Linked DNA regions of Homo sapiens: all the other regions are linked to region 2. Evidence: fine-mapped expression QTL. A gene starts in region 2. Each other region holds a variant in brackets. All regions are shown on one strand. Distances are between the middles of the regions.

Region 1 (2,770 bases), 29 kb before region 2:
TACAAAGTATAGGTTTTATAATAAGACTAATAAATGTTAATAATCAAAGAGGACTACTTAAGCAAATATTTCAGTAGTATGTCAAGACTGAAGAAGAGACCCAAGCTTGTGATGTAAAATTACTTAAAATTCTAACTATTTTAAGTACAGTCATGTGTCACATAACAACATTCCAGTCAATGATGGACTGCATATACAATGGTGATCCCATAAAATTACAATACTGCATTTTTACTATTATCTTTTCTATGTTTATATACACAAAAACCACTGTGTTACAACTGCCTACACTATTCAGTACAGTAACATGCTGTATAGGTTTGTAGCCTAGGAGTAATAAGCCATACCATATTGCCTACCTGTACTATACCATCTAGGTTTAGTACATACCCTATGATGCTCATGCAGTGATGAAATTGCCTAACAATACATTTCTCAGAGTAATCCCAGTCATTAAGCAATGCATAATTGTATATATTATGCATTATAAAAAATATGCTTGATGTATACATGTTTTTTAATAGAATTTTTATTATTTGTGAAGTAACAGTGGAAACTGATGGATTATATGTTATATGATAAGTAAAACAGTTATTTTGGGGAAATGTTACCAGATACTTAATATCACATGGTATAAATCAAATAATACAAATAAAATTCAACTTTGCATTGGTGAAAATACATAACTTCTTTCTACAGAAAACTTTTCATCATTAAAGTTTGAAATTTATATCAAATTACATACCAAATGTAGGATTATAAAAATATTGGATAAATCGATTTTCTGGCTCTGGCGATTGAAAGGTGTGAACAAACTGATGAGTAGCACTAGTTTCATTTTTTGCTACATCTTCTAGATAAAATGCTTGTTCCAAAAGAATCTGCCATTGTACTTGAGTTCGACGGTGTCTCTGAACTGAATAAATCACCTAAAAAAGAGAATGGGGGTAGACCTGGCAGTGTTCTGATCCAACAGTGGTTCAACTCTCCACTAGGGAGCATGTTTGGATTGTCATAACAATGGGAAAGTGCTAGGGCATTTACTGGGTCAGGCTGAGAATATTAATGTTCCAAAATGATGTAACAGTTTTATATAATGTAACAGTTATGCTCAGTGAAGAATTCTCCCTCCCCAAACGCCAATAATACCCCTGCTGGTATACACAGAGATAAAATATTTCAAAGAATGATAAGGACGGGATTAAAGGAAGTTTTAAATACACATTCACTAAAAATTCCTTTTTTTATGAGCAATGATTAGAAGTCTAATTAAAATCATCATTAAGTAAAATACTTATAATTAACAAAGTTACCTGTTTATGCAGTTTTACCAGACTTTTTTCACTTGGATAGATACTATGCTTTTCATCAAAATCTTCATAATCATCCATGTTCCTACCCATTTTTTCCTGATACTCTGTAGGGCACTAAAAAAAAAAAAAAGTAGATTTTTAAAAATCTTAATTGTAAAAAGATAAAAATTTATTTTTATTAAAAATCTTTCATTCTTGAGCAGTTCTAATTTTCTCAAAAACATCTTCCTACTTTATTGTCATCTCTAGTTAGACTTCATTTGCTGATATTTTCTTGAAAATGTCTTAAAAGATGTACTGAGTTTCTTCTCACCTTTATAATATTAATCTTTGTGTTCATATATACCAGATAGGTA[T/C]AGATGGCTATAGGCAGGGGAGCTTACCTGCAGGAAGCAACTAGTATTTGAGAAGATTATTCTAAGTAGGATAAATTATTTTTCTAGCTAAAGAATGAAGCAAAATCATGACAAATCCAAGATGCTGAATTTTTGAAAGGCATAGCACAGAGAAATAAATACATGCATTTAAAGTCATCTTCCATACTACTACTCACTTATTACCTATATGAACTTGGGCAACTTAGTTAACCTCTCTTAGTAGTTCTCAAAAAGTAGCAAATGTGAGATAAATAGTTAGAAAAGTGATTCCATGAGTATTATCTTAGCCAAACAGAACACTACACAAGAATCAGTATAACAGATTTAAAATCTAGGAAAATAAATGTTTCCATGGTTCTGTGGGTTTAAAAGACAATTGGGGAACTGCAAATAACCATTTTTGGAAGTATATGAATACCCCTAATTCAATACCAATGCATCAAAACCTTAACTTTATTAAATATAGTTAAGTTTATTATAAATATAGTAAATATATAAATATAAATATAGTTAAATATAGTATAGTTTATTAAATGTCTATGTTAACATCATTCATTTTATGATATATGTCATGAATATATTAATGAAATATATTTGTAAAATAACGTGTAGGCAGCTGATTGTAAGATATTACTGAGGCCTTGGTTTATTTTCTTATAGGAGATATGCCTTTAGTGAACATATACAATGACATTTTAAAGGTTTATTTCCATCATTGTCATGACAATCCTTATATATTACTCAACCTCTATCTCCATATTTCAATAGAAAATACTGCCAATAATTAGTGTTAAACTTGCAGTAATTAAAAAAATTCAAAGTACAAATGGTGTTGGGTTGATATTTCTATGAAAATGAATTTAGAAGACCTCAGCTATAGGCTGTTTTCATACTTTTCTGGTACTTTTGGTATAATATTATATAAGTGTATATTTCAAAAGGAAACAGACAAGATGATTTCATTACCTTTTTAAGTATTGTATCAACACATTTTCTCAATGGGTGATTATACTTGATGCTTTCATTCACTTTACGAACCTCCTATAAAAACAGTAAAATAAATAAAAATATTTCCATTTC
Region 2 (2,770 bases):
AAGGACGTAGCTTCAAACAAAGGCAAATGCTTTCTCCTTAGCCAAAGTAACATAAAGGTCACTTTCTGTAAAACATCAGGATATTGCATTTTAAAATGCTTTCCATATAACATTAGTTTGATGAACGGCTTAGCCTAGGATTCTGCACCTAGTTCCAATCAAAACCAAGTTGTGAACAGATCCCTTCTTTACACCAATCTCATCTTTCAAGAACGAGCTAAAGGTTCATGAATTCCTTCCTCAAGAGGCAGTTACTTTTCAAGCTAAGGACCAAGCTTGAAACAAGCATATACCTGCACAAGGGAGGTTTAATTTCACTACAGAGCGAATCATTTTTTCAAGGAAACCAGAGGGTGTGTCATACAGCATCACTGAATATTCTAATATGCGATGAAGCTGTTATGCTTCCTTATGAACTTTATAAATCTTCATTTTTATGAGGCTTAGAATTCATCCCCCTTCCCTCTTCCACTGTTTTCCCGGGGTCACAGTTGTAGTATAGTTTGCCCAATGGATTTCGCATGGTCATTGTACCTGGAATATGTCACGCTCCCTACTCTTACTGCCCCCAAACTCTTCTCAGCAGAGATAGGCTGAAAGCAGCTCGCTTTTAGGCGGCGACGCAAACACACGTAGCCAGCTGAGCGACAGCAAGCAACCAAATGGCTTTGCTGGAGGCCCCCTGCGTGCACGGGTAAAGCTCGTTGCAAAATACAGTCCTTTCATTTATTCCCATGTTGCTATTTATGAGACCTGTCAAGGCTGCAAGGGCATGCGCAGCCTTCCCACCACACAGGACCCGCTGGGGTCTCCGGCTCCCCTAAAATTAAACCATTGTCTCTCGTTCCAACGGCGTGTTTAGCTGTTGTGCGTTATTTTACAGATAAAGGAAGGATCCCGTCCACAGACCCAATTCTTAGGGCCGCCTTCTCCCCGACGGAGGAAGAAGCTTCCTGGCAAAAGGACGAACAGGTGCGACGCCAGCAGTTCGCAGCCTCTCACCTGGCCGGCGGGCTGGGCTACTGTCACCACTCAGCAGCCAAGGACTTGGGCCCCGCAGCGGCGGCCACTCGGGGTCTGCCGGGTCCCCTCTCTTTCCGCCTGCTCTCGGCCCCGGACCCCAGACTCAAAAGCGCCTCACGCGTTCCGCCTTAGGCTCACCGTCCGATCTCGCCAGACAGCGTCTGGACGGGACCGGGAAACGGCGGCCGCCACAGCTGTCCAGGTTCTGGGATCCACGCTCAGAGACGACAGCGCTGGCGATCACCAGAAGGCCTGCGGGCTCCCGAGAAAGGAAAATCCGTCTACAGTCCAGCGGCTGACATTTCCCAGTCAGCCGTAGCGCCGCCCGCTTCCGCCTCCCCGCCTACCCCGTGGGCCGACCAGTCCCGCTCCCGCGGGGGGTTGTGGGTATCTCGAAGGCGGGTAAAGCTGCAAGGGAAGGAAGTAAGGGCGAGCCCGTCGGACTACGAAGCGGGACGGAAACTACAATTCCCAGCAGGCCTTGGGCCTCAGTGCGGCCGCGAAGCAGAGCGGGCTGTAGAGCCTTGCGCGCGCAGTGGGGATGGAACGTTGCTAGGCTTAGCGGGTCTGGCTGCTGGGGGCCCGAGCAGCACGCTCGGAGCCGCCGCGCGCCAAAGCGGGAATCTGGGAGGCGAGCAGCTCTGCAGTTAATGCACGTATTTTAAACTCCCGGGCCTGCGGACGCTATGCACAGGTAAACGGATTGCAAAAAGGGGAAGAGCATGAAATGGACCCTCTTAATAATTCTTTTAGGCCGCGAATATCGCTACTGGCTAATATTGTTAGTAATGCTGTTAAGTGAATGGTTGCTTAGCCCCTTCTTGGGGAAAGTGTGAATGGATGGATGCCTTAGTGCGGGGATCAGCGTGTGGTTTTATTTGGCTTCCCTAATTGGGCTTTTCTGCCACCGTTTTCAATCAGTGTATGATTGCCCTGTCTCTCTCCTTGTCTGTTCCCTCCACTGGGAGAAATTCTTGAGGCCTTCTGCAGGATCGTAAGTCAAAAAGCCTTCTCGATTTGTTCTTTTCATTTCTTCGTTTTCTTGGTAACTCGCCGCAGGCACATAAAAAATGCGATTCTGTTAGCTGCTGTGAAGGTTTCCTACAATGCATAAACTGCAGCTTCTTTAATTGCCTTGAAATTATTTATGGGTGTGTTTTCGAAAGGAACCGGGGGTATTGTGCACTTCTGCAGGAAGCACCTCCAGGAGATTCCAGACCTGAGTAGCAACGTTGCCACCAGCTTCACGTGGGGATGGGATTCCAGCAAGACTTCTGAACTGCTGTCAGGCATGGGGGTCTCCGCCCTGGAGAAAGAGGAGCCCGACAGTGAGAACATCCCCCAGGAACTGCTCTCAAACCTGGGCCACCCGGAGAGCCCCCCACGGAAACGGCTGAAGAGCAAAGGGAGTGACAAAGACTTTGTGATTGTCCGCAGGCCTAAGCTAAATCGAGAGAACTTTCCAGGTAAGGACATGAGGGTAAAAATGTCAGTTATGCAAAGGGTGGATTTAGCTATGTTGTTGGGAAACCTTTGTTCAGAGATCTTTAGCATGGGTTCCTTTTAAGATTGCCTAATTCTGAAGCTATTTTTCAACAAAATAGGGCAAGTCGTCAAGTATGCAGGAATCTTGGTAGATATATATATATATATATATATATATATATGTATGTTCTGGTGCATAATCACCTTGAAAATTTTAACCCATGAGAAGACATTCCTGCCTTTTTCCTTAGAAGGGAATCTG
Region 3 (2,770 bases), 64 kb before region 2:
TGCTGAAGTGGGCAAGTGATGCCCTGACCAGCACTGACACAGTACACCAACTTGAGATACACAGAGTCCACCTTCGATGTTCACATGTCTCCCTTTCTGAACCTTCTCTCGATTTTTGGGTGCCCCATCACCCTTCTTACGAATTCTAACTAATTCTGTACTCCCCACCCCACCCCAACTCACAGGGAAGAGACAGAGAAGTGGTGAGGTTTAAAAAGCAGCACGAGGGTCTCCCTGTCTAGTATACTAATGAATACACCTGTACCTATTATAATGCAGTAGCCCAGATCAGGGCAGGATGGTGACTCACTAAATTCACTCATTTATACCTGGTTGATCCTGCCAGTTAAAGAAATGCACCCATTTATCTGTTGAGTCAACACAAATTTGTTGAGCATCTACTATGAGCCAGGCAGGGGTGATTCTTCAAATAAGACAAACAAAAACCATCCCCTGTGGAGCTTGTATTTGAGTAGAGAGATGAGCATTAGTATATAGTATATTAGGCAGTGATAAGGAGAAAAAAATAAAGCAGGAAAGTCCCCTCTGAGAAATGACTTCCCAATAAAGACCTGAAGGAAGAGGGTGAGCTAACCATGCAGATGTTCAGTGTTTCTTAACAAATGAGTCCCTGCTATGGGGCAGCATTATGGTTGGCATTTGCAAGGGCATTATCTGATTATGATCCTCACAGCAACCGTGAGGAGTATTGTATGATAAGACACCCCTTTCTCTTTTTTTAAACAAATAATGAGTTTGAGGTTCAGGTTTACTGACTTAACCAAAGTTCCCAAACACCATATTAAGAGATACCACTCTCTTATCAATTTTAATAATTAGTAGTTTTAAAATTGTTCACATACATAACCATGTCATAAGAAATAAAAGCTTGTTTCTTTTTTTCCTTATCCTTAGGTCTTTCAGTTCTCTTTTCTTGTCTTATTATTTTGGGACACACAATGTTGAACAGAAGTAGTGAAGGCAGGCATCCTTGGCTTGTTCTGGATCTCAGAGGGAAAGAATGTAGCATTAAGGATACTTGCAGTAGTTTTGTGTTCTTGTTTACGAATACATATTTACTTATAGGTAGATAGATAAATAGATAAACATTTATTAGAAAATGAATGTTTACTTTTATTCCTTGTTTCCTAGGACTTTTAAAACACATAAATAAATATTGAATTTTATTTAAATGTTTCCTGCATCCATTTGTGATGGTCATGTGACTTTACTCTTTTCCACCATTAATGTGATTTATAATAATTTATTTTCCTTTTTAAAACCCTTTTAAATTTTGCGGCCAGTCACGGTGGCTCATGCCTGTAATCCCAGCACTTTGGGAAGCTGAGGTGGGGGGATCACTTGAGCTCAGGAGTTTGAGACCAGCCTGGGCAGCAGGGCGAAACTCATCTCTACTAAAATTACAAAAATTAGCTGGATGTGGTGGTGCACACATGTAGTCCCAACTACTCAGGAGGCTGAGGTGGGAGAATC[G/T]CTTGAACCCAGGAGACGGAGATTGCAGTGAGCCGAGATTACACCACTGCACTCCAGCCTGGGCAACAGAACAAGGCTCTGTCTCAAAACAAACAAACAAACAAACAAACCTTTCAAATTTTGAAATGTAACCCATATCCAAAAAAGTGCATAAAATATAAATATACAGTATAGTGAATAAGGATGAATAGAAACATACTTGTAAAAAATATTCAAGTGAAGAAACAAAACATTGCCCCTTGAGTGATATCTCTGAATCGGAAGCACTGACTTTTATAGTCAGTCCCCTCACTTGACTTTCTTTATAATTTGCCCAACTATGTATGTATTTCTAAACAATAAAGTTTAGGTTTTGGTAGTTTTCCTGTTTTGGCTATATTGGATATATATTTTAAACCATTCTATCTTTCTTCTATTTAAAGCTATATCCCATTTCTATTCTTTTAATGATTGCAGAGGTTCTAACAAGTGTCCTTAACTTCTCAAAGTCTACGTTAAGCAATATCTTTACCCTCTTTCTGAATATTACCGCAACCTAAAAACACTATAACACTATTTCCTCCACTCCCAATTTATATGGTGAGTTGTGTAATTTAATTCTCTCTATATGTAAGTTTTGCCTTTTTATGATGAAATAAAATGTACATACAGCAAAGCACATACAAAAGAAGGTACTACTTAATAATTCACTACAAAGCGAACCCCTGTAAAACCACCACCGAAGTCAAAAAATAGAACGTAGCCAGCAATCCAGAAGGCTCTTCTGTGCATCATTGCAATCACTAATCCCTTGGTCCCCCTCAAAGGTAAGCAATAGCCTGACATGTATGGTAATCTCTTCCTTGATGTTTTAAATGTTTTTACCACTAGGCATTCCTCTTTTAACTCTACAATTTTATTTTGCCTCCTTTTGAATTGTATGTAGATAAAATTATATTCGATTATTTTTTCCTGTTTTGCCTCTTTTGATCCATATTATGTTGGTGAGTTTTATCCATGTTGTTGTATAGCTGTAACAAATTCATTTCCATTTATTCAGTGAATTTATCCATCCTTTTAGGAAAATTCATTCTGTTGAATGAGTTGTTTGTGATTGGGCTATTATGAATAATGCTACTATGAAGAATATTTTACATATCTCTGGGTGCACATATACACATGTGGATATATATATATATATATGTACATATACAGTAAAATTCCTGAGTATGAGTACTTCAACTTTAGTAGATATTACCAAAATCGTTTTAATGTGGTTTTACCAATTTATACCCAG

Which allele goes with the higher level. Positions count from the first base shown, and alleles are read on the strand shown. Sizes are in standard deviations (SD) of each study's normalised expression. Not every link is listed here.
For the expression in fibroblasts of the gene that starts at base 1,334 in region 2, allele G in region 3 goes with a lower level than allele T (small effect, 0.21 SD a copy in GTEx).

The links. PIP is the estimated chance that this variant, and not a neighbour inherited with it, causes the effect. A credible set is the group of variants that fine-mapping cannot tell apart.
Region 1: its variant is the best candidate, but not a certain one, in a credible set for the expression of LMBRD2 in whole blood (INTERVAL, PIP 0.89).
Region 3: its variant is the best candidate, but not a certain one, in a credible set for the expression of LMBRD2 in fibroblasts (GTEx, PIP 0.76).

Annotation. Positions count from the first base shown.
Region 1 is chr5:36,121,535-36,124,304 of GRCh38, forward strand. LMBRD2 (LMBR1 domain containing 2) reads right to left here. Exons shown (of 18, transcript NM_001007527.2): 7 at 2,657-2,731; 8 at 1,314-1,427; 9 at 746-929. Among named protein-coding and RNA genes, the nearest start is that of MIR580, 25 kb to the right of the region's middle. The variant T/C (reference allele first, on the strand shown) is at 1,670.
Region 2 is chr5:36,150,554-36,153,323 of GRCh38, forward strand. LMBRD2 (LMBR1 domain containing 2) reads right to left here and starts at 1,334. Exons shown (of 18, transcript NM_001007527.2): 1 at 1,003-1,334. It overlaps SKP2 (S-phase kinase associated protein 2), which reads left to right and starts at 1,558. Exons shown (of 10, transcript NM_005983.4): 1 at 1,558-1,717; 2 at 2,218-2,489. The coding sequence starts at 1,710. RefSeq lists silencers at 605-664, 1,265-1,404 and enhancers at 618-1,601, 1,675-1,864.
Region 3 is chr5:36,086,815-36,089,584 of GRCh38, forward strand. No RefSeq gene overlaps it. Among named protein-coding and RNA genes, the nearest start is that of UGT3A2, 21 kb to the left of the region's middle. The variant G/T (reference allele first, on the strand shown) is at 1,495.